Linked DNA regions of Homo sapiens. The protein of the gene in region 5 interacts with the protein of the main gene of each other region in a pairwise test. Each region holds a gene or a part of one and is shown on either strand. Other genes may lie near its edges.

What was found.
Region 1: the proteins of UQCRC1 (region 5) and ZNF488 interact in binary tests that used the Homo sapiens proteins (3 or more experiments, as listed by UniProt).
Region 2: the proteins of UQCRC1 (region 5) and ARHGDIB interact in binary tests that used the Homo sapiens proteins (3 or more experiments, as listed by UniProt).
Region 3: the proteins of UQCRC1 (region 5) and SULT1B1 interact in binary tests that used the Homo sapiens proteins (3 or more experiments, as listed by UniProt).
Region 4: the proteins of UQCRC1 (region 5) and EEF1G interact in binary tests that used the Homo sapiens proteins (3 or more experiments, as listed by UniProt).
Region 6: the proteins of UQCRC1 (region 5) and C2orf15 interact in binary tests that used the Homo sapiens proteins (3 or more experiments, as listed by UniProt).
Region 7: the proteins of UQCRC1 (region 5) and SOX14 interact in binary tests that used the Homo sapiens proteins (3 or more experiments, as listed by UniProt).

Annotation. Positions count from the first base shown.
Region 1 is NC_000010.11:47,374,294-47,377,793, reverse strand, and holds part of ZNF488 (zinc finger protein 488), read left to right. Parts: intron 1-3,254; exon of another isoform or gene 3,255-3,333; intron 3,334-3,500. UniProt on the Homo sapiens protein: Transcriptional repressor. Plays a role in oligodendrocyte differentiation, together with OLIG2. Mediates Notch signaling-activated formation of oligodendrocyte precursors.
Region 2 is NC_000012.12:14,948,102-14,951,601, forward strand, and holds part of ARHGDIB (rho GDP-dissociation inhibitor 2), read right to left. Parts: intron 3,051-3,500; exon of another isoform or gene 2,816-3,050; intron 2,624-2,815; 5' UTR 2,612-2,623; coding exon 2,431-2,611; intron 1,785-2,430; coding exon 1,701-1,784; intron 796-1,700; exon of another isoform or gene 699-795; intron 1-698. UniProt on the Homo sapiens protein: Regulates the GDP/GTP exchange reaction of the Rho proteins by inhibiting the dissociation of GDP from them, and the subsequent binding of GTP to them. Regulates reorganization of the actin cytoskeleton mediated by Rho family members.
Region 3 is NC_000004.12:69,733,121-69,736,620, reverse strand, and holds part of SULT1B1 (sulfotransferase 1B1), read left to right. Parts: intron 1-2,356; coding exon 2,357-2,483; intron 2,484-3,113; coding exon 3,114-3,208; intron 3,209-3,500. UniProt on the Homo sapiens protein: Sulfotransferase that utilizes 3'-phospho-5'-adenylyl sulfate (PAPS) as sulfonate donor to catalyze the sulfate conjugation of dopamine, small phenols such as 1-naphthol and p-nitrophenol and thyroid hormones, including 3,3'-diiodothyronine, triidothyronine (T3) and reverse triiodothyronine (rT3).
Region 4 is NC_000011.10:62,559,096-62,561,493, forward strand, and holds the end of EEF1G (elongation factor 1-gamma), read right to left. Parts: intron 1,360-2,398; coding exon 1,187-1,359; intron 1,099-1,186; coding exon 974-1,098; intron 743-973; coding exon 584-742; 3' UTR 501-583; downstream 1-500. UniProt on the Homo sapiens protein: Probably plays a role in anchoring the complex to other cellular components.
Region 5 is NC_000003.12:48,603,147-48,606,646, forward strand, and holds part of UQCRC1 (cytochrome b-c1 complex subunit 1, mitochondrial precursor), read right to left. Parts: intron 2,711-3,500; coding exon 2,624-2,710; intron 2,005-2,623; exon of another isoform or gene 1,774-2,004; intron 1,635-1,773; coding exon 1,505-1,634; intron 1,286-1,504; coding exon 1,087-1,285; intron 498-1,086; coding exon 418-497; intron 1-417. UniProt on the Homo sapiens protein: Component of the ubiquinol-cytochrome c oxidoreductase, a multisubunit transmembrane complex that is part of the mitochondrial electron transport chain which drives oxidative phosphorylation.
Region 6 is NC_000002.12:99,140,447-99,144,506, reverse strand, and holds the start of C2orf15 (uncharacterized protein C2orf15), read right to left. Parts: upstream 2,801-4,060; 5' UTR 2,570-2,800; intron 2,223-2,569; 5' UTR 2,106-2,222; intron 1-2,105. Other genes in the region: TSGA10 (testis-specific gene 10 protein), read left to right, coding at 3,368-3,439.
Region 7 is NC_000003.12:137,763,039-137,766,834, forward strand, and holds SOX14 (transcription factor SOX-14), read left to right. Parts: upstream 1-1,276; 5' UTR 1,277-1,746; coding exon 1,747-2,469; 3' UTR 2,470-3,296; downstream 3,297-3,796. UniProt on the Homo sapiens protein: Acts as a negative regulator of transcription.

The DNA.
Region 1 (3,500 bases), on a different chromosome or scaffold from region 5:
TGTGAATGTGGCAGCTGCTGCTAGATGCTGACAGGTGCAGGGGCAGGGCTGAGCCGGCGCCTCCGGGTGGCAGCCGTGTGTGTGTGTGTGTGTGTGTGTGTGTGTGTGTGTGTGTGTGTGTGATTGTTATTGCTGGCTCCTCTGGGTGGCAGCCATGTGTGTGTGTGTGTGTGTGTGTGTGTGTGTGTGTGTGAGATTGTTATTGCCGGCATCTCTGGGTGGCAGCTGTGTGTGTGTGTGAGTGTCTGTGTTTGATTGTTATTGTTCTGTGAGAGAGTCCTGGAGGTATAGTGCTCTGAGCTGAGGTGAGTTGTCACATCCATAGCAATCAGGATTCTTTGGATGCAAACCACAGCGATGGACTCTGGCCAACTTTGTGAAGAAGGAATTAATTAGAAGGTTATGGTGGCAGGTAGATCACAGTGTCAGAGGAAGAACTGGAGAAATAAGCTCAAAAAAGACCGGGATTGAGCTATTCAGAGAGTTCCAGTACCAGGCACACATAAGCAGCTTCTCAAACTGAAACTGGGTTTGGTTAGGAAGGATGCTGAGTAGCATAAAACAGAACCAAGCCATCTGACTGCTCTTGTCGTAGAGATCGCGTATTCCTCCTTTCCTGTCAGCTGGTTTAAAAACCTGGGGCAAAGGGGGACCCTGCAGTCCACCCCACTCTTCCTGAGATGCCCTGCGGGGGTTGCAGAGATAGATCAAACACAGGCTGTCTCTCCCCAGGGACCAACAGTCCAGTAGGTGATAGCGGCAACACTGACTATGGCCAGGCAGGCTGCTGAAGGTGGTCTCTGCAACCCGAGTCAGCATGGCAGCCCTGACGGTGTTTTGGTGTGAGCAGCTCGCAGATGCAGCCCAGTTGTTTTGCTTTCTGGGCTGCTTCTTGAGGGTCACCTCAAGTCTGCACACAAGGGTAGAGCTGCAAGCTCTGGAGGGAAATAGCACTGGGTTATAATTTCCACTGGAGGACATCTATAATTTCATGTCTCTGAGTGTGAGTTTGGCCACAGGCTCCTCTGTAGGTGTCTGCACGGGAACCAGTGAGGACCCTCAGGCTTGAGCCCCCATTCTGCTGGATCTGGTGGTCTGGAAGGCTGGGCATAGTGTGACTGCCTCAGCCCCTCCATTTGTGCTAGGGCTGGGGGAGAAGGAGGATGGGGTGGGGAGTTCTCTGACTTTGCACGGTGGGAGTACACCCTTCTTGGAGGATATGAGTGCAAATGGATGTCAAGGAGCCCAGAGCTCTTCAGAGCAAAGAGCTGGGCAAATTCCTGGCTCCCACTCTAACTCTCTCTCCTTATTCTCCCATACCTCCCTCGGCAGGGTTGAATTTCACAATTGGGTCTGACCTGGCTTAGTGTGAATGAAAAGTGGTCGTTTACAGGAATCCTCTCTGTCTCGCTGAATTCCTGCCCCTCAGTCTTTTCCTCACGATTGAAATATACCCAGCCCTTCTTTTCCACTAGGACTTTGCCTGTGCCATCTTACCATCCCTGATTGGTGAACTCGTATTCATCCATCAACACCCAGAGATAATATCACCTCCTCAATGGGACATTCCTCAGGCACCCCAGGCAGTCCATGGTCCATCCCTGATCTTGAAGCATTTCTCCCAAACCACTCAAGTGGGCTTGTCTCCATCCCAGGTCCTGTTACGAAGAGGTGTTTTTCTCTCTCATTGCATGTGGAGCAATACTTCCATGCTATTCATCCTGTTATCACAGAATAAAAGAACGACTGTCTCCCCTAAGAGATATGGTGTGGGTCCCTGTGGCTAGACCATGTGATCTTACCCATAAACAGTCCTCACAAACACTCTCGATTTACGTCTAACCCACTCTTGTCACTGCCTGGCATTCGCGTGTGCCGTTCTTTCTGCCCTCTCTTTTCTTTGTATCTGTCTGCCCTTTGGAGGCCTCCTGCCTCTTCCAGGAGGGTCTCTCTGATTATTCTGGTGCCCAGAATTAGAAAGTATATGGGGTACATGCTGTGGTGTGTGGTAAGTGTTTAACAGCTGGTTCTCAGCATGTAGCTGCAACATGGATTTTGGGTGATATTTTCATTTACAATAAAGTGTAAGATGAAAGTGGAACAATGAACATATGTCAGAACTTCACTTGTTTGTCAGTGATCTAAATAACTTCTTTCCTAAATCACATAATAGTTTCGGAATACTAGAAGAATAGTCCCTCAGCTTTTTGTGAGCTATTCACAATATAACAGCTATCGACAAGACAAAAATTTCAGTTTAATCTGCATTATTGACAATTTTTTTCCATTACTTTCTTAAGTCCAGACAATGAACAAAACAAGAAATCAAGCCTTGATTTATAGCATTTCCATAAATAATCCCATTCTGGCTGATTCCCTGATTTCTGGCCACTCACGATATCCCTGGATGTGGCATGAGGAGGAGTGGACCGTGGCAAGCCCCCGCACCGGCAGGTGGAGCAGCGTCCACAGCGTAGGCAATGGGAATGTGTAGTAGAATGACTAGGAAATGATGGGTTCTGAGTATGTATTGCCTGTGTTTTTAATATAACTTCTTTGACTGTAAGTTTGTATAGTTTAGTTTTGAATAATGTCTGAGTTAAAACAGCTAACTTGAAACATTCCTGATCATCTCACAAGCCACTGTGAGCTGGCTCCAGCACACCACTGGCTGCATACCAAGAAAATCAAGTTGCAGGCAGAGACGAAAACCTTCAGACAGAATTGCGTGGCTGTGTCCACTCAGTTTCGTCAGGGGGTGAGCTTTATTAAGTGCCACAGTAACAGATACTGTCATTGGTTCAGTCAACAACTGTTTCTAACCCCATCTCACTTGGCTTTCCTGCACTGCAGAGGTTGGGAAGCTAAATCCATGTTTCCCAGACTCTTTTGCAGCCAGGGTGCAGGCCTTTGACACAGATCCTCACAAGCAGCCAGATACATCACCCAGCCCCGGATGTGCAGTCGAGTCCCATGAGCTGAAGTCTTTGGCATGCAGGTGATATCTGTCACTCACGGTGGCAGGGACATCTGGACTTGTGGGGTGGCTGTGGTGGACTTTGTAGGAGTTTGGTCCCTTGTGATTGGTGCTGGTACCAGCAGTTTCTACTAGACAGTGCCAGGGCATGGTTAGGCTTTTTTTTCTGGCTACCCTGACCCTTGGAGAGCTCCCAAGCTTGGTCTCTGGCTCTCACAGGGATTTAATGAGCTGCATGATAGCCTTTAATAAGTTCCTTTCTGTTTAAACTACCCAGGTAGAGGCTGCTGTCTGCAGGTGGGAAGCCCTGATTGCTGGAACCTAAGGGATGTGAGAAATCACTGTGGAGTGTCAAGGTAACCAGGGATCTGCTCCTGGGACCTATTAATCCACCTCTTTTAGAAGGAGTCCACAGTCCTGTTTGTATTTGAATATTCATGAACATTAGAAGAGCAACTTAGTCTGGGTATGGCTATGGCTGACAGAAGTATCATGCTGTGTCACAGCTGATTATTAGATCTGC
Region 2 (3,500 bases), on a different chromosome or scaffold from region 5:
ACACACACACACACACACACACACACACACACACACTTAATGCCTGAAATCTTACAGCTCTGTTATGAAAAACATGAGAGTTTCCCTGCCCCCAAGTTTGATGACAATGCTAAAAATACACAAGACATTACAAATAATGAGTTGTGAAGATAAATCTTTTTTTGGTCCATTTATTCTCTCATTGAGAATTATATTACTGGTCAAATGAAGAGGTTATTAAAGAATATGCCCCTTACCCCTCAAATAAAACATATAAGAAAAATAGTATTTAGGAGTGTCAGCTATTTGTTTTTATAGATTTGGTGATGTTTGTGGCATTTTCTAGCTTTTAAAATTCTACTTGTTTTTATTCATTTTATCACTTTAAGAAAATGTTCACCTTTGTGTTTACTCTTGTATTTTCATTTGCAATTTCATACTATTTTTCTTAAGGAATATCACTGAAGTTATAAAAGCTTCAGGTTCCATAAAACCAGGATCTGTCCCAAATTCCTGTACCCTGATTAAGGAGGTAATCACTCTCTATGCTTTTCTTCATGCATAGCAGCTTGTTAGTGACAGAAAACCCAATTTGGTTTTCCTCTGCTGGGAAAGGGGACAGAGACCAAGTTTTCCTTGCAATACTACCAGGTCCTGCTGAAGAGAACAGATTTCTTTAGCGCTAATTCAGACCTTATCTTGCAAACTGGCAGCTGTACCTGGTAATATTAGGAAGACTCTGAGTTCTGGTGAGAGAGCGTGAGTTTCTCTCCTGGAGAGATGTCAGCATGTCGGGGTAGCTGAATGTGTGTGTGTGCCTGCTCTAATGATTTCAGTTGAACAGGAAGTGTGCCTTCTCAGCCTCTGATTTCCTCCCTCTGACAAAAAAGCCCATATAAGGTAAAGACTGGCTGTGTCCTGTGAGAGGGGAACTACTCTGCTGCTAACTAAGCCAACTGTTCTAGACTTGTGCTTTGTCTGTCTCACAAGAGTCCAATTTTTTCATTTGGTAACTATTTTTTTTTTCCACTAAAAACTTGCCTTTGAAGGCCCCAATCTCCTGGCTCCGTGCTTCTCCTCTCATATCCCCTCTGATGCCCATTTCCTCCACAATAACCCCCTTCCCAGTCTCTCTCCTCCTCAAGCCCTAAGTCTCAGGGAAAGGCTTGACCCTTAGTTACAATAAGGTGAAAGAAAATAACATCTTAATTTGTACGCCTTTAGTAGGAGACGTTGTTTATTTAACAAGAATCAGAGTTTCAAGCTAAAACAATTCAATCTATAGCAGTGGAATTTCTAGTATAATTCCGGATTGCTTCTCACCTTCCAGTAAGTTTTGTAGTGGATAGAAGATCAATACTTTGATGTTTAGACTGTATAAACCTTATAACTTCAGAAGCACACAATTTGTTTCTTAATATTTCCATCAGCAGTCTTTATTGCATAAATAACAATTCTCTTACTATCATGTGGAGACAAAAATCTGTAAATATATCAAATGTGTATGCCTGCACTCTCTTCAATTAAATAGAGATAAAGATTGGGCTTTTCATGAAACATGGTAAATACTGTGCACTCTAAGAGCAATGATTTGTTAACTGGTCCTAGCATATATATCTCTCTGATTCACCAGTTTTCTTCTGTTGGAACAGGAGACAGAGACCAAGTTTTCTTTGTGATATCTTAGGCCCCCTTTGAACAGTACAGATGTGTCTACATACCAGTAAGGTCCATGGTGATTGGTCCCGGGGCACTCTCACAAACCAGGGTGAGCCGGGTGACAACGACATTGGGGGCTTTCGGATCTGCAGGATCGAAAGGGAATGTAAGTACCAAGAAGAGACATGTGTATAGTGGGTGTGTGCATTTCAAGTGGGAGACAGAGAGTATGAAAATAAAAGTGATCTTTCTATCTGGAGTAGAAATAGAAATGGATGTGGCAGGTTTGCTATGCTTGGTCTTGATGGCCTTGTAAATTACAGCAAAGTTATTTCTGCTTTAGGCACTTGTAGGTCCATCTAATTATTGACATCCAACATTTCCTGAATGGCTATGGGTCAGGTACTCTGCTAATTGGGCACTGTCCATTTATATCTCTGGGCCATGTCTTGTTCTGCCGCGGTGTATGTGGAAGAGATGAACGGTTAGGTAAGGACTGAGAAAGAGAGAAAATGGAGAGAGAGAAATACAATTCTAAGTGGTAGCCTGGAATTCTTTCTAAATCCCCTCTGTGTGTTATGTGTGCCTATCTCACTGCTGACTTGCATCTTATCTCTTAAGAAGACTTAATTATACAGTTCATAACTTTAATCAGCATATATAAATTGTGCCTCGCTCACTTTTTCCTGGAAGCAGTTGGTCCTCTTCCCTTTGCTGCTGCTCCTGAGCAGCCAAAATGTCTTCTTCCCTCTCAGCGATCTTCCACCCACCCTGTTCTCTGTACACACATACCTGTCACCACAGGACCATCTCCCAGCAGCGTTTTCTTGTACTTAATTAGACTCTCATCATCTTTGTCCATTTCCTGCAGCTCTTTCAGGGACTTCTGTGGTGGAGGCTTATAATTGAGCTTGCTGTCCAGCTCATCATCGTCATCCTCCTCCACATGTGGCTCTGGGGCTTTTTCAGTCATTCTGATCTATTTCTGGGAGACAGAATGACAGCCCGTTAGTCAACAAGTCATGAATATAAAAGATGTTAGTGGGGCTGCTGTTAGCAGCCTCCTTACCCTCATGGACTTCTCTGATCATCAGTCACTTTCCTGATTGTTTTCCTAATTCAATCTCATTAAATTCTATGAAATAATAATCTAATGTATTCTAGTAATTTCTCTGACCTGCCTGAATTTCTCTGTACCATTGTAGTATCTTCTATTCACTGAACAAAACTGACAAGAAAGAAATCACTCATATGTGAATAACGTACTACGAGTGAAGCAACATGGCACAAAGACTCCTGAACAAATGAAGCAAAAGCCCAGTCAAAAAGCTGTAGGAGTTATCACAGTCCTCCAAATCCAGCCAGCCTGGCTAGCGTCAAAGCTTGCAGCATGCACAGTCTGAGTGATAATGGTGGAGAGAGGCAGGAGAGAGAAGAGAGAGGTGGAGTACTTGCCAGAGAAATGGTTGGCTCCTCCCCATCAATGGAATCTGTCCCTGAACTCCAGCAATGCCTCAAAGATGACTCATGACGAACCGTTGACCTTTATGATACCTGCCTCAGGTGCCTGCATGGTTCACACCCAACACTGCTAATCACCCCTCAAGGGTGGGTACTAGGTTTGCTGTTTTTCTTGAATTCCCCCTAAAACACTTGCATAGTTCTGGCACTTTATACAATTTCCTTGATTGATATATAAGGTTTTATATCTAAAGATATTCTATTCTTTTTAAATGCCACAAAAATAGCAAAGGACAGTTTAAATTCCTCCAGACAAAATCGTAAGTACAAATTTGCCCTTAGCATTTGTCCATCCATTTCCCTTTTCTGGATCCACTTCCCTTTCAGTCTCTCCCCTTCTC
Region 3 (3,500 bases), on a different chromosome or scaffold from region 5:
ATTTATTTTAAATTTTTTTTCAATTTTTAACTTTTGTGGGTATACCATATGTATATATATATTTGTGTGAATAGGAGCCTCATAACTCAGACTGGTACCTTATCCCACTGTCGCTGAGCTGGTATCCAAGATGTAAGACGAAGTCCTCTTTGCTCTTCCCTCTCCTCTGCTCAAGTGGAAAGTAGGGATCTCTTTTGAATCCACCAACTGTGCAGCCTGGAGTCTGGGGAAGGGTGGCACAAGCAGTCCCTTAGTCTTGTATGTCTCAGTGTGTCTTGTACCCTCCAAGTCCACTGGCTCTGAGGCCATCTCAGCACTAGAACATGTCTAGAAGTATGTGGTTTAGACTGTCTTTCAAGTTTATTTACAGGTGCAGAGCACTTTAGCCTATGGTGGTGAGGCTTGCTGGAACTCATATTTCTACCACTGGGACGTGTGATTCCCCTCTAGATAGGATTGGTCTATATGCTTCCTTCATGGAAGGCTGTCAGCTGAGTTCAGTCTAGTTTTGCTTTCCACTGTGACAGGGCAGCACTGAGTTCAATGCAATGTCTCATAATTGCTGTGCTCTCCCTCTCCCAAGTGCACAGATTCTCACCATGCCACACGGCTGCTACTAAGGGTTGGGGGAGGCATGGAAATAGCAATTCTAAGACTGTCTTTCCTATCATCTTCAGTGGCTGTTTTAGTGATATGAAGTTAAAACTAGGTACTGTGAGTGCTCACCTGATTTTTGGTTCTCATGAAGGTACTTTCTGTGTGTAGGTAGTTGGCAAATTTGATATTCCTTTTGAGGTGTGGGGGATGATTGGTCCACCCTCCAAGACAACTTGTAATGGAATGTTGACGCTTTTTTATGATAGCTACTTTAAATCTTTGTCAGATAACTTAACATTTGATTCATCTCAGTTTTGTTTTTCTTGCTTATTTGATTTCTGGGGCTGCTGGACATACTGTACCATCCCTGCTGATGCCACATAAAAGGAGTATAAGGTACTTTCCTGGACTTCCCACTCTTGTTAGCTGACTTTTTGAAAATTGGAGAGAAGCCTTCGGGCCTGGGAGAAACAGGGCTTCTCTGATGTCATCACTGTGAATGGGTGGGACTGCTTATAAAGCCCCGTTTATATCGCAGGAGTTTGAATGTCCCAGTACTTCATTGCCATTACTGGCAGTGAGTTAGCTCACCTACAGAGACCCGGGTGTGGAGCAGAGTTTGGAATTCTCCACTATGTCTCTGTTGGGCTTCCTCTTTCCTAATCCTTTGACCAGGGAGAGCAGGTTTTTCTAGATATTTTTTTGTTTCGTGTATGCCTGTAAATGGTTCCAGGTCACAGTCCTTTTTGCTGCCCAATCCAAGAGTATATAGGAGATAAAAAGGACACCTAGGAGGAACTCACCACATTGGCATTACTCAGCTCTTTGTCCAGTATGCTTTTGGAGTTCTTGTATCATTGTAAGTTGAATAATTTCCAGGGCTTTAGTGACATTAAGAATACAAAAGGCCGGGCACGATGGTTCATGCCTGTAATCCCAGCACTTTGGGAGGCCGAGGAGGGCGGATCATGAGCTCAGGAGATCGAGACCATCCTGGCTAACATGGTGAAACCCCGTCTCTACTAAAAATACAAAAAATTAGCCAGGCGTGGTGGCGGGCGCCTGTAGTCACAGCTACTCCGGAGGCTGAGGCAGGAGGATGGCCTGAACCTGGGAGGCGGAGCTTGCAGTGAGCTGAGATCGCACCACTGCACTCCAGCCTGGGCGACAGGGCGTCTCAAAAAAAAAAAAAAAAGAGTAGCGAAGTAGAAAATAGTGAGTCTATACCTTCTAGTTTCTGAACTGGATGCCCCCAAACTTATTTTAATGCCTTTTAATATCTTTACCTTCTTTTCCTTTCTATATATTTTTATCAGCACCTAATATTTTTCTCGGTATTTCACTGGTAGAAGTGAAAAGTGAAAACTTTTATTTTTTTCCCACAATTTTGTTATTTTCAATTTGCTGGTATTCTCTTTAGTCACAGTGTCATTTTCTTGATAATGTGTGTTCTAGGACCTTGCAGATCTTCCAGAAGCCACAGTGGTCTATTAATGCTTCACAGTGTCAAGTGGCCAGAAACTGAAATCTTTTTTTCAAAACGTCTATAGCTCGATGGTTCTAATCTCAAAAATGCATTGCTGTATTGAAAATCACTTGAATTGATTCTATATTTTAGCTGTTAATAGAAGGGCCTCCCTGGCCCACAATTTCTATTTGAAAAAGTACTCTGCTTTTTTACATGCGTATAGGTTAATTTTTTCCTAAACAAAATGTCTTTTATCTTATTTTTTTCTCCTACCCCCACCCCCCACTGCAGATGATTTATCTGGCTCGTAATGCCAAGGATGTTTCAGTCTCATATTACCATTTTGACTTAATGAATAATTTACAGCCTTTTCCTGGTACCTGGGAAGAATATCTGGAGAAATTCTTAACTGGAAAAGGTATGTGGACTTTATCTTAAAATTGATAAGTATTTTTTATTTTAATAATACTATTAACAATAACTTTTATGACTTTCAAAATACTTATTTTTCCAATCTAGTGAAAAGTATGTTCAAATATTATCTAAAAAACTAAATCTAATGCATCTAATATTTTTACTATGACCTTCAATTTATAAAACTAGTATTAATCATTGGCATACAAAAGTATTCTATAATCTGTTCTCAGTTGCTAGAAGTCCATTATCAGTCTCTCCTCACAATAGACATTGTTTAACTTGCTTAAGCAATTAGTTAGATCTGTTAATGCATATGTCATATTTATAGTACTTAGGTAAATAGTTGATATGAGTACTTTGTAAGATAATAGTTTTCTTCTTTATGAGACTAAGTATAACTTTTTGGAGGTCAGTGTATTTTTGTCTGAAATGCTTTCTTTGTACTTGACATTAAAAAATATCTGATGTTTATATATCCATAAATAGCTAATTTTACTTTTTAAGATTGTCCTCATATTCTTACTTCCTTTGGTTACTAAATTCAAAATGTTTTCACAATTTGATTTACTATTCAGACAGAAATATTTAATTTGATGAATGTTTATGAAAATAGACTTTTATCTGGTTTTAGTGGCCTATGGTTCCTGGTTTACTCATGTTAAAAACTGGTGGAAGAAAAAGGAAGAACACCCAATACTTTTTTTGTACTATGAAGATATGAAAGAGGTAAAATGGTAGATATGGATTCTGGATAATTTCCCCACTGCATCATGCTGTAAAAGGGTTGATATTTGCTTTCCAACTTAGTCTATCGAGTCCAAAATGATGATTGCTTTGCCTATCCACCATGTGTTTTTACCCAAATCTTGCTATAATTAATGAGTTTCTAATTGTGAAAAGAATTATTTATTTTTATTCCTCTTATTTCTTAGCCACTGCGTTATATCTGACCACTCTTTCTTCTGCAATTATTTCCTATATTTACCAGGATATCACATGCTTACAGTTATCCTTAGAT
Region 4 (2,398 bases), on a different chromosome or scaffold from region 5:
ACAGAGGTTGAGCTGAGACTGCACCACTACACTCCAGCCTGGGCAACAGAGCCAGACCTTGTCTGAAAAAAAAAAAGAAAAAAAAAGAAAAAGAAACTACAACCCTTGCATATTGTCAGCTACCTACCTCACAGGACAGTTACAGGAAATAATGTAAAGTTCCTTTGCGCTCTGTGAATTATACACGTTAGCTCTTGTTATTAGCAGCTATTCTCTCCCTTCACTGGGAAAGGCCTGGAATCTGATCCCTAAGAATTAGGTAGTCACAAAGCCCCATGTCACTACCCGCCCCAACTGCTTCCGCTCTTTCCCAGCTAGAAGACAGTCATCACCGTAGGAGGCAGGGTAATTAAAATCACAAGTGAACACAGGCCTCTATTTCTGTTCTTCTGAAGTCTTCTCTCCTGCATATCGAGGTACTGCGAACACAGAAAGTACCCTGCTTCAACATATCTACTCCCCTTGAAGACGCCACCACTCACAAAGGAGGCAGGACAGGAAAGGGTTCAATGTTCAGTTTCCTTTAATGACCCCCATCTCCCTGAAGGGCAGGTGCAGGCAGCTAGGTGATGGCAAGAGATGTTCACTTGAAGATCTTGCCCTGATTGAAGGCTTTGCCCACATGCTGGAAGGCCCCCTCCCAGGAAAAGTACTCTCGAACCAGCGTCTGGGTCTCCTCGCTGCCAGGATCCAGTTTCCGCCATGTGTATGACTCGTAGTCCACCTGCCAATCTGGACTCAGCTGGGGATAAAAAGCCAGCATGTGGTCAAGTTATGAGACACCACCCCACACCTGTGTTACTTCCAGCTCAAACACATGTCATCAGACCCCAGGTCTCCTGTGAACATGAACTGCTCCTTCCTATAAGCATTCCTGAACCCTCCTAAACATCCATCAACTCAGAAATAAAACACAGTGCTTCTTATATCCCTGCCCCACCCTAAAGAGACTCCTCTCCTCCACCTTCCTCACCGGAAAGGCAAGCTCCTGGCCTCGGAAGACCCAGACTCCAGAAATGGAGCTGCTATTGTTGGTTCCAAAAAGGATGACACTGGCGAAGGCATTCTTCCTCAGCTTGTCCAGTCGCTGGAACATTCCTGAAGCGGCAAGGGAGAACATTCAGCCTTTGGAATCACAGCACTTGCTACACCTTGTTCTCCTTCCTTCTCAGACCCACTCTCTTACCAGTGATGAGATTGCAGCTCATGAAGGTCTGAGTGAGTTCTTCAGGGAAGCGATACTCTGAGTACCACAGGGACCAGCCGTCCTTATCAAAGTGCTCCCAGAAATATGGCAGTGCCACAGAGAGTGTGTCCTCATTGGAGTACTTGCGCTTAAATTCATCCAACACAAAGGTACTAAGAGGAAGAAAGCACAGGGGTCAATCAATAAGGAGGAAGGTTGCCAGGCTAAGAGAAGTGAAGGGTGCTTTCACTTAAAATTTACTAATATAAAGGAAATGGTCATTGTGCTGGCAGATGTGTATGACCTTATGAGGGAAGTAAGCTCAAGGGGTTTGAACAGGGGCCTAGGACACTCCTCTGCATAAGTATGCAAGGCATGTGGAGGGTGGAACTCAAAGTGGGACTCTGAGACCTGCCCCAGGAAGGGCATGGCTAACTGCTGCCCCCAGGTGGAGACAGAGTGAGGACTTCTTTTTCCCTGTTCAGGCCCTCCCCAGGCTGTTTTCCATGAACCACACTAAGTCACTGACTCACCCAAGTCTCTTCCCCCCCACCATACAGGCCTCTTCAGGTTACACAAGCTGTAACAGGAATGTAAGCAGTGAACATTCTCAAAGGGCCTCCACCCCAAATCTTACACCCATGTCCTTTAGTCCATCTCTGCCTATAAACAAGCTTTAGTCTTTTCCAAGGTTTTCCGATGCTGGAAAGCCCTTAGGTTCAGGTTATCTTAAAAGCAATCTGGCATACTGAGCCAAGAATGCCAGCATCAATATAGCAGAGGTCACTCCCTCCACGATTGGTGCTCTGTTTTCTTTCTTTCCAGTTATAAACATATACACTGGCCAGATGCGGTGGCTCACGCCTGTAATCCCAGCACTTTGGGAGGCCAAGGCAGGTGGATCACCTCAGGTCAGGAGTTCAAGCCCAGCCTGACCAACAAGGTGAAACCCCGTTTCTACTAAAAATACAAAAATTAGCTGGGCGTGGTGGCAGGCTGAGACAGGAGAATAGCTTGAACCCGAGAGGCAGAGGTTGCAGTGAGCAGAGATCGCGCCACTGCACTCCAGCCTGGGCGATAGAGGAAGAGTCCTGTCTGGGGGGAAAAAAAAGGACAGGCAGGGTGGCTCACACCTGTAATCCCAACACTTTGGGAGGCCGAGGCGGGCGGATCACGAGGTCAAGAGATCAAGACCATCCTGGCCAACATGGT
Region 5 (3,500 bases):
CAGTGAAATCTTCCCCACCCTTCTGTGCCTTCCTTTCAAGGCACTTCTTGGTTTGTTATCAGGCATGCATCAACACACAACTAATGGCTGGCTCTCCCAAGGGCAAGGCCACAAGGAACAAGGCCAGGAGCTTACATCCCCTACCAGCCCATGAACTCAGTATCCTAGAACCAGGTGGGGCTAAGACAGACCTGTACCAGAGGGACAGCATCCTGTGTAACCAGTCCCAGTGGTGGCGGCAGGGTAGAATCCTATCCCACCTCAGAGAGCACAGGAGGAAGGTCATTCCCCTCAAGGTTAGGGTGGGAGCAGAGTCCCCTGGGGTGAAAGGTCCCCTATGGTGGGAACCAGGACCTCGGCTTTGATAACCAAGGCTGGGACCCCACTACCCAGGACTTCAGTGATTCCATCACTCACCTCCAGCTGCTGCCAGCACCATTCGAGGGGCCTTGTAATGTGTGCTGAGGTACTCGGTCAAGTCTGCACGAGACAGCTTCCTACAAGACATATGGTCAGTGTGTCAACACCTCTACCACACTGGAGTGAGTTGGGGTACATGCATGAATGGGACTGAGGAGGCAGACTAGGAGAGGCATGGTTTCTCCGAAGAGTGGGCCCTAGCACACTCCCCAACCCCCTTCCCCTGTCTCTGCCACCCACCCCTCCAGGGCCCAGAGGGCAACCCTTGTCTGCCCTTGCCTCATGCCTGACTTCAGGACAGGCTCATAGTCTTCTCTGAGAAGGCGTGAGCCAACACTGTGGGACTCTCAAAAGGGCAGCATCAAAGCTCCCGGAGCCATCCACAAAGGAGACAAGAGACCACATGGAGGGGACACCCAGACACTTCGCCCTTGGACTGTCAGGACATGCACCAAAACATACCTTAAAACAAAGCCCAAAATTCAAGTGAAGCCCACAAAGCCATTAAAAAAGACTCACTGGACCACATGGATACAGAAACTGTCTCCAGTTGCATAACTCAGGAAAATAACCCCGACAGCTAGCCAACTAAAAATGTGACCTGGAAAGGGTCTGGCCAGGCCAGAATGGAGCAAGCATCCCCCCACAAGGCCAGCCAACTCTCACCTGACATTCTCACTGGGCCCCTCCACAGCCTGGGCTAGAGGTGTGCCCTGGAATGCTGTGGCATGCAGGTAGTTAAAGACCACATCTCGCATAGATGCATCATTCTCCTGCATCTCCCGCAGGATCACATCACGTTCCTTCTCAATCTGTGAGTCTTCCAGACTACAGTTCTGCACAATGTCACCCAGGAGCTCCACAGCTAGATGCAAGGAGGACATGTTTAGGTGCCAGGTGGACCACTGCAGACCAACGACAGCACAAAATCCCCAGGCCTGGCATCTCCTGCTGCCCACCCCTAGTTGCCCAGCTGCAAAGCCATACGCTAAGGGTAATATGATTCTGTGGTCAGCCAGGGGCTCCTAGGTAGCTGTCCTCTGCTTCCCTGCCCTCTGTCCCCGCCTCTTCCTCCAGGTGTTACCTTTCGGCAGATCCTTGGACAGCGCCTTGATGTAGTAAGCTGTGTGCTCCCGGGTGCTGTAGGCATTAAGATGGGCCCCCATGCTCTCCACCTCCTTCTCCAGGGCACTGCCAGGCCGATTCTTTGTTCCCTGGAACCAGATATCAACCAGAACAATCAGGAGCTACACAGGAACCCAAGAACCCTGTCCTCAGAGGCTAAACACCCAGCAGGACCACTGGTCCACAGGTACCTCCCTCAGCATAGACTCTGGGGACACAGATCCCAGAGTCTGTTTACCAAGCACTAAGCAGGCCTTGAGGTGACCAAAACCATGGCATCATGCGCCAACAGAACAGAGATAGCCAGGGCCAGGACTGAAGGGCATGGCCAGAGCAAGTGTTGCCTAAAGCTCCTGTAACAGCTTACCAACAAGCTGTGGGGATCATTACCAGTACACCTCCCCCCTCCTTATTGACAGCCATGGTCAGGTAAGCCCACACCTGTGTTCAAGTGATAGAACCCACTCCTCCCATGCCATTCCCATGACTGTATGTTTGTGAATACATGCTAGTGGCCTCTGTGGGACCCAATCCTAGTCCTGTGTGTGGAGAACAGTGGTGCTATCTCTTGGTGTGCACACACACGTTAATTCTGCACACATACCTGTGACATTGCAGCTGGCTAGGTTGCCTACTATGGCTCCATGGCCCTGCCCACCCCATAATCCTTCTCCATGTTTTTCATTCCTTTAAAAAACATGGGTCTTTACAACCAAGGGATGCCTAGATATTCCACCAGAGAAGAACATTTCATAAGCAAGCATGCATGCCCATGTCTGTGGGTTTGTTAAAATGCATGTGCATATCTACGTGTGTTCCACAGGCCTGGCTTCTCTGGTGAAAAGTGGGGCTCCTATGGTTCCTTGGGTCCTCTTGGCTCTGAGGGCCTCAGGCAGGGGCTCATCAGATACGTGCCCACTCAGGAGAGGTTAAGCTCATGTGGCTCCTTTTAGGAAAGCCAGCCAGACATCAGCCCCGCAACTGAGGCCCATAATCAGGCTAATTTTTCTGACCTTCATCCTCAGGAGGGACAACAGGCAGCCCTAAGCCCAGAGGAGACAGACTTTAAGAGCCTCACCTTGAAAGCCAGATGCTCCAAAAAGTAGCCTGCCCCATTATTCTTCTCAGTCTCAAAACGGCTGCCAACATCAATCCACACTCCCACCTGGTCAAGAAGCCACCAGAAAAGGTTACAAACAAACCACTCCCCAGCCCCCTACTCACACCCCACCTGAGTGACTCAGTACAAGCCCCAGGCAGGGACTTATGAATCCTGGAGTCAGGGAGAGCTGCCCCAGCAGGACCCCTGTGCTTGGGGACACAGTCATGCTTGGAAAACAGGGGCAGCCGAATGACTCGTCACACCACATCATTGCTCTCCTGATTGGCTATCAAGGACCCACAGGGACACTTCTAACTGTGCACATTTACCTGGTCTCACCAGCATACAAATCCTTAAATTCACTCTCAATTTTCAGTTAATTATTTGTTTTTGTCTAAGCATACAACATATCATTTGCAAATAACAACTTATTTTTTCCTTTCTAAAAATTACACGCTGCCTTTGTTCTGGCAATGATTTTATCCTTTCATCATTAAGGAAGGGACTATTGGTTTAGACTGTATATTTTATCACACTAAATATTGTTCCTATAATATCTTTTTTGTTGTTGTTTTTAATCAGCTCTGAACACCAAACAGTGTTGCCTTGGCACCCAATAAGGTAATATTAATTTTCTTGACAGCCTCCTGGTTGCTGTGAAACACGCACCACAGGCTGGGCGCGGTGGCTTATACCTGTAATCCCAGCACTTTGGGAGGCCAAGGCAGGTGGATTACGAGGTCAGCAGTTCGAGACCAGCCTGGCCAATATAGTGAAACCCTGTCTCTACTAAAAATACAAAAATTAGCCAGGTGTGGTGGCACGTGCCTGTAGTCCTAGCTACTTGGGAGGC
Region 6 (4,060 bases), on a different chromosome or scaffold from region 5:
CGCCTGCTTTCAGCATCAAAACACAAAACACATGAAGCAATGGCTTTTAGATATTGGACAACAGGCAGTTCGGGAGAGTGATCCTTGAGAAACAGGAAATAAAGTGAGCCCTATGAATGGACATTGCCTGGAACTTTCAGGCCTCGGCATAAGGAGGAAACTCTCTGATTTAAAAAACGGAACACAGGCCGGGCGCGGTGGCTCATGCCTGTAATCCCAGCACTTTGGGAGGCCGAGGCGGGCAGGTCATGAGGTCAGGAGATCGAGATCATCCTGGCTAACACAGTGAAACCCCGTCTCTACTAAAAATACAAAAAAATTAGCCGGGCGTGGTGGTGGGCGCCTGTAGTCCCAGCTGCTCGGGAGGCTGAGGCAGGAGAATGGCGTGAAGCCGCGAGGCAGAGCTTCCAGTGAGCGGAGATCGCGCCACTGCACTCCAGCCTGGGAGACAAAGCGAGACTCCATCTCAAAAAAACAAACAAAAAAAAGGAACACAGCATCAGTGAGCTGTGGAACAAGATCAAGTGGCTTAACACATATGGAATTGGAGTCCCAGATTTTTTTTTGAGGGGATCAGGAAGAGGACAGTGAAAACAAAACAAAAAATAGTAATAACAGAGGTTTTTGTAGTGAAGCTTTTGAAATGATGGAAAAATTAAGGGACTAGAAAACCAAGACCTTAGAAGGTGTCTGTCACGAGAGAGCAAGCACAGGGTACTATATAAGGCTTAGCCTGGGCCAGGCACAGTGGCTCATGCATATAATCCCAGCACTTGGGATGCTGAGGTGGGTGGATCACTTGAGTCCAGGAGTTCAAGACCAGCCTGGGCAACATGGTGAAACCGCATCTCTACAAAAACATACAAAAATTAGCTGGGCATGGTGGCACATACCTGTGGTCCCAGCTACTCAAGGGGCTAAGGCAGGAGAACTGCTTCAACCTGAAAGGTGGAGGGTGCAGTGAGCTGAGATCATGCCAACGCACTCCAGCCTGGGTACAGGGCAACAGAGTGAGACTCTGTCTTAAAAAAAAGGAAAAAAAAAAAAAGTCTGGGCGCAGTGGCTCACACCTGTAATCCCAGCACTTTGGGAGGCTGAGGCGGGTGGATCATGAGGTCAGGAGATCAAGACCATCCTGGCTAACACAGTGAAACCCTGTCTCTACTAAAAATACAAAAAACAAAAAACAAACAAAAAAAAAGCTGGGCGTAGTAGTGGGCGCCTGTAGTCCTAGCTACTTGGGAGGCTGAGGCAGGAGAATGGCATGAACCCGGGAGGCGGAGGTTGCAGTGAGCCGAGATCGTGCCACTGCACTCCAGCCTGGGCGACAGAGTGAGACTCTGTCTCAAAAAAAAAAAAAAAAAAAAAAAAAAGGTTTAGTTGGGGCAGGGTGGGACACTCACTACCCCTTGGGTTTCCACAGAGGGAAGGAAATTTTTACTTTCTCAGGTTAGGGGAGAAAGTCAACAGTTCTTGATAGGAAAAAAAAGGAAAATCTTTTCACCCTCTTTTGGCCTTAAAATGATCATTTCCTTATATTCTTTCCAAATAATCTTCAGTACCGTCTAGGTGGCATACATAAGTGCTTAAACTTTTCTTATTCTTTCTATAAGGGAAGTACTTTCCTACTTCCTATATTAATAATCTCCCCACCCCCGAAGTCTTCAACTCCAGCTGATAGTTTTAAACTTAGAACATTCTTTCCTATTTGTTTTTAATAATGCTAGATAATGTATTCAAAATAATCTTAGTATCTGAAGAGGAAATGAGATTATACATTATTCCCTCTAACATAACTTCTCAGTTTGTTATTTTGTGCATTTAAAAAATTACATTTCCGAGGATATGTGCTCCTTGTGTCCTCTAACCTCTTAATCTAAAATAACAGGGACACTTAATTTTTTTTGGTATCTAATTATACTTACAAAGTATATGATATCTGAAAATAAATGCGACAAAATATGAGACCATGTAATAACACGATGAAAAGACATTGGAAAAACATGGCATTTATATTAAATGTATTTTTATGACTAAATTTGTTCTACACAAAAGTTGTTTATCCCTGCCAATGATATCTTGTGGGGGGAAAAATGAGTACTCACCTGGCGAAAACAGGAATTGTTAGTCTCCTCAAACGAGAGCTTACTCTTGAAATACACAGCGTTCTACCATATCAAGGTCATCAGAGAATTGCTGTAAAAACCTAGTGTCTATGTCATCTGCAGGAAAAGGAGATAAAGTCACCATTATCATCCAGAAGCTCTTGAGTTATTTAAGAAGGGACATGGTAGGTATTAAGAAAAATTAAGAAGACTTTTTTCCCCCCCATTCTGGGCTCCAAAAAATTGGTAGAAGAATGCAGCGCTCATTCTTTTTCACTAAAAAGCTCATTTGTCACTTTAAGGTGAGGGGATTTGGAAAAGGACTGGCATGTGGAGAAGGAATATCGGTCAGGAATCTGGACTTTGTTGCTAGATCTGCCACTTCCTGATTCAGCCCTGATCGTGCAGAGCTGACCAAGGCCGTGGTCCCCAGGCTCCCCTGACTCCAGGCTGCCCACGCTCACCGGGACAGGCCGGCTCGCTCCCTGCAGGCTGCAGCGGGAGGGCTGGACCTGGAAGCCTCTCTTAAAACGGGCCCTGGCTGCAGCAGGAGCTGCGCCCGAAAGCAGCTCTGAGAGTAACCGGTTCACCGAACATGGGTCCAGAATGATGCCCAAGCCCTGGGAAAAGTGGCACAAAGCCACCGCCGCGAAGCAGCAGGTGTTTCAAGCTGAGGGAAGGCGGGGCTGCGAGAGACAGCCTTGCGCATGCGCGTTCCATCCAGGTGCGGCAGCCTCAGGCAGAGATTAAGAAATGAGTCGTGGAAAAGGGGGCTAGCGGCTGGTTACTAGGAGACGGGACGCTCGGCTCGGGCGTCTAGGCGCTGCGTGGGCGTGCGCCTGCGCGGCGCGGATGGGCCAGGAAGGGGTCCCTCCTAGGTGCCCTGTAAGGCAGGCAGGTAGACGTACGCGTCGCTCCGTGCGTAGGAGCGCGCGCACGGCTTGTAGACCCCGCGAGAAGGAAGGTCGAGCCAGGTACGCGTGCGCACCGGGCCTGGGGGCGAGCGGGACGGAAGCAAAGCTGGGGCGCCGGGGAGGTGGAAGACGAGCCCCACTCCGGTACAGAGCGTGAGGGCGGGGCCACGGCGGCACTGGCTGGCGCTAACCGCCCCCTCCTCCTTCCCGCGGGCTCCGTCCTTCCTCCGATCCGCCGGGGCGGGGCCAGGACGATTTGGGGGTGGGAAGGGAGGAGAAAGGGGCGGAGGATGGAGAGTGGGCGGTTCTTGTATCCCCCGCTGAGGCCGAGAGCTGACAGTCGCGGGGATGAGCTCTGGGCAGGACGGCGGGCCGAGGAGCCCGGGGAGGGACCCGGAGCTCCAGGTAGAAGCTGCGGAGGTGCGCGGGGTGGGGAGAGTGCTGCTACTGGACTGGAAGGTCTCTGAGAAGGCGGCTGCAAGCGGGCAGGAGTGGCGGGTGCGGGGCCGTGGCGGGCGGAGTTGGGCGCTAGCAGCGGGAGCGGCTGTGAGGGGCAGCGGCGGGCACAGCTGCCGGCCGGAAGCTCGGCAGCACGAGTTGCCCCTGTTTCTTGGGAGGTTAGGTTTGAGCCCAGTTCCTATGGTCACTGCTTCGCGTCCTCCCGCAGCTCTCCGCTTGGTTGTTGGGGAGACTGTTCAGTTTAGAAACGCTCTGGAAGCTCTGGTGGAGCCGAGGAATTTGGAAGTCACAGATTTGGGAGTTCAGCCTGACTCCCGATCGCTCATTTCTGAGCCTCTTTCTAGACTTGGGGTGGTGAAAGGCTGAGATTACATAGGCATTTGCATGAAAATCTCAGATAATTTTAGTAAAAATTATACACAGTAAAGGCAGGGAAAGCTGGCTTTTGTTGAAAAACTATTTGAGACTTAAATTGGATAACTAGGTGATCATGGACTTGATACCTAAAAACTCACAGAAATATGGTTTTTTTTCACTTTTTTTTTTTCGCAGCTTCGGGAAAGTTTGCATAGATTATAGTGT
Region 7 (3,796 bases), about 89 Mb from region 5:
CTCATTCCCTGTCACCCTCCCCCACTCCTAGCCCCTCGGAGCCAACGGAGCCTTGCGCGTTTCTGGCCGGTCCTCCCAAGAGAGAATGGTGCAAAAGCCAATAAGCCTGGAACACACGCAGGTCCCGCCGGGCCTGGGACAATGGTTTCCATTTAATAAATATTTCCCCCAAGGGCATTTCACATCGGGCAGGCAATTATTCAAAGGAAACAGGCGCGCAGGTTGGCTCTGCGGGTTATTTCGTCCTCTTTACCCGAAGAATGCTCATTTGACGCAAGAAACGAGTCTCGCAGCCTCCCTGGGTGGGAAGAGGCGCCCAGGGACAAACCGACCCTGGTTGCGATACACCGTGAGACTCCGCTGTAGGGCCGCTGCAGAAGGGGCACCGGGAAGAGCCCCATACCCAGCCTCTAGGCTCTTCTTACGGTATGAACATTTGTGGAGTAAAAGTTGGAGGTTTAAAGACACTAAATAATAATAACATAAATGGGAACTGCAATAGAAATCTCAGCCCCATCCCTGCCCCAAAAGTGAAGAACAGGTCGTAGTGCTTTTAAGGGCTCACCAACTAGGGTTCGAAATCTCTGCATTGCCTGACGCGAGGCCTTCCAGGAGCAGGTCAGACAACATTGCTCAGCCACCCAGGGTCCCAGCGCTACGCCCGGGCGCCGCATCCTGGGGCAGGGGTGGATGCCTAGTTGCAGGGGCTTCCCGGGAGAACACTGCCAAAGCACCGCCGAGGGTGGGGCGCGAAAAGTTTATTTCGCTTTTACCCTGAGCCTGCTATATGTTATTTTTCTCTTCCAAGGATATTTGACAAGAGGGCAAAGTGCTGTCCTTGCATTTCGCGGCAAAGCTGTCCTATTTATCAACACAAGCTCTCGCCTCGCTCCCTTTGCTGTCCCTTCCCCGGCCTTTGTATTTCAAGCCCTAATTCTCTTTCACAACCGGGAAAGGAAACAGGAGACGCGGAAGAGTTTTATTTGTTGACAGTGCCCGAGACAATGTGGAACCGAAGTCCCCAGTCTAGAGCTAGCCTCTCTGCTCTAGCCCTCTCTCTGCCTCTGTCCCTCACACCTCTCCCCGCCCCCACCAGTCGCGCTCTCTGTTTCTTGCACCGGCGTGTTGGCAGGTGCGCCCCCTCGGCTTCTCTGCTGCTGATTGGCGCCCAGGTTGGGGAGTCGCCGCCCCGCGCTTATGTCAGAGTGCGTGCAGTCCCGGCCCACCTCGCCTTTGAACTTCGCCGCTTTTGGCTCTCGTTCACCAGCCTCCCCGCATTCTCAGCCAGGTGCAGCGCTAGGCGCGGCAGCTCCGGGAAAGCCACGGGAAGGGGGAGCCACGACTGGAAACGCAAGAGGAGAGAAGGGAACTAGAGAAGGCAAAGGTGGAGAGGGGGAGAAGGAGGAGCTTCTTGCCCTGGCTAAAAAATTACCTGGCCACTTAATCCCGGAGACTCCGATACTTGGGTCCCAGCCCCTGGTGCCTGAAGCCCCCCGGCCGATCGCCCTCTCCTCCCCCGCCCTTTCTGCCCCCACTCGCTCCCCCGGGGCTGCCTGGGCGCTGGGACTGGCATGATCAGCTGAACTTTGTGGGGTCAGCGCTTCTCTCTGGCTTCCCCTCAGCGGCGCCAAGGCGAGGGGAGCGCAGAACCCCGGCTCAGGACGGACAGACAGACGGCCAGCCGCGCCCAGGCTCGTCTGCAGAACCCTTGCACTCCCTACCCCCACCCACCTAGCCGCCGGGACCATGTCCAAACCTTCAGACCACATCAAGCGGCCCATGAACGCCTTCATGGTATGGTCCCGGGGCCAGCGGCGCAAGATGGCCCAGGAAAACCCCAAGATGCACAACTCGGAGATCAGCAAACGCCTAGGTGCCGAATGGAAGCTTCTGTCCGAGGCAGAGAAGCGGCCATACATCGATGAAGCCAAGCGGCTACGCGCCCAGCACATGAAGGAGCACCCTGACTACAAGTACCGACCTCGGCGCAAGCCCAAGAACCTGCTCAAGAAGGACAGGTATGTCTTCCCCTTGCCCTACCTGGGCGACACGGACCCGCTCAAGGCGGCTGGCCTGCCCGTGGGGGCCTCCGACGGCCTCCTGAGCGCGCCCGAGAAAGCCCGGGCCTTCTTGCCGCCGGCCTCGGCGCCCTACTCCCTGCTGGACCCCGCGCAGTTTAGCTCGAGCGCCATCCAGAAGATGGGCGAAGTGCCCCACACCTTGGCTACCGGCGCTCTGCCCTACGCGTCCACCCTGGGCTACCAGAACGGCGCCTTCGGCAGCCTCAGCTGCCCCAGCCAGCACACGCACACGCACCCGTCCCCCACCAACCCTGGCTACGTGGTGCCCTGTAACTGTACCGCCTGGTCTGCCTCCACCCTGCAGCCCCCCGTCGCCTACATCCTCTTCCCAGGCATGACCAAGACTGGCATAGACCCTTATTCGTCAGCCCACGCTACGGCCATGTAACCCCCAGCCCGGCCCGGACCTGAGGCGTGGTCTGAAAGCCGGGTCTGCACCCTGTCCTCTGAGCCTAGCCCCGGCCTGCAGACGCCTCCGGGGTCAGCCCTGCCGCTGTCCCTTACACCACCCAGACTTTTCCTCTCTCTTCCAGGGGGAAGGGTGGGGCGTCCTCCCGGACCCAAGGCGCAGACAGGTACCGGAAACTTGCAAACGTTATGTCAGCTACACAGCTGCCCCTATCCCGACTCTCCCAAAACAAATCTCCGACTGTACCCCCTTTGGACAAAAAAGTAGGCAGTTTTGCTTTATTTATATCCCCTTCACTCTCCTCGGATAGGCTTTGGACTCTGAACTCCCAGATTCTGATATTATATCTACAATATGCATATATTTTTTCCTTTTGTCCCCTGAAGAAAAGAGTTAGCTGTGTCTCTGTGTTTTGCCATCAGACACAACTAGGAGCCATTTGCTCTTCATGTATGGGGGGGAAAGGCTTCAAAGTTTTAAATTACAGAAAGGGAAACATTTCTATTTAAAACCATGCTATGATAGTGTTTGCTTCTTTAAAGGGAAAACAAAAAGGACCTACATGGTTATTTACTTTGTGTAAAGCAGTGCTTCTAGAGATCTAAGTTTACTTTTAGACAGAATGTCGGGTTATGAAGTCAGGAAGTAGAAGGTGAACAAAAAATTAAAAGAACAAAAACAACCTAAATGGTCATAAATGTTTTGACGATGTCTTGGAAATGTACCTAGAAGGATTTTACCTCGTTGCTCTGTTCATTTGTTGAACAAAGACGTTTTGAATAAAGACAATCTGTCATTGTAAAAAAGTAACCTTTGATGTGCCTAAAATCTGAAGTCAGGAGCCAGGTTGGAGGGACTGGAAAGTCGGGTGCGGGGAGGCTGAAAGTGCATAGAGCGACTTTAAGCAGTGATGGCTGGTGGCTGCCCCCCGTTGGCCCAGCTTGGTGGTCTGCGGGTTGGGTGTAGAAGGGCCTAGAGCTTCGGATCCGTCCGGAATGCGCCCTGGAGATTGCTTTTTGCCTTTAGAGGCTAGACAAAGGTATCGTTCCCTGGGACTTCACTCTCTCCTCCCATTCTTCCCAAAAGGGTCAGGCCACTTCAAGGAATGAATGAACTAAGTCAAAGGCCGACCCAGACCGCTGAGATCTGGGTGAGTTTACTTTTTAAAAAACCAAACGCTGAAGGAGCAGGGAGAAGCACCGAGTCTCCTGGGAACCAGTTGCGCGCTGAACACCCCGTCCTGCATTGGATGTTTAAGTTCAAAGCATGGGAGAAGACTGGGGGAATCAGGTATTCTGCCTTTTTA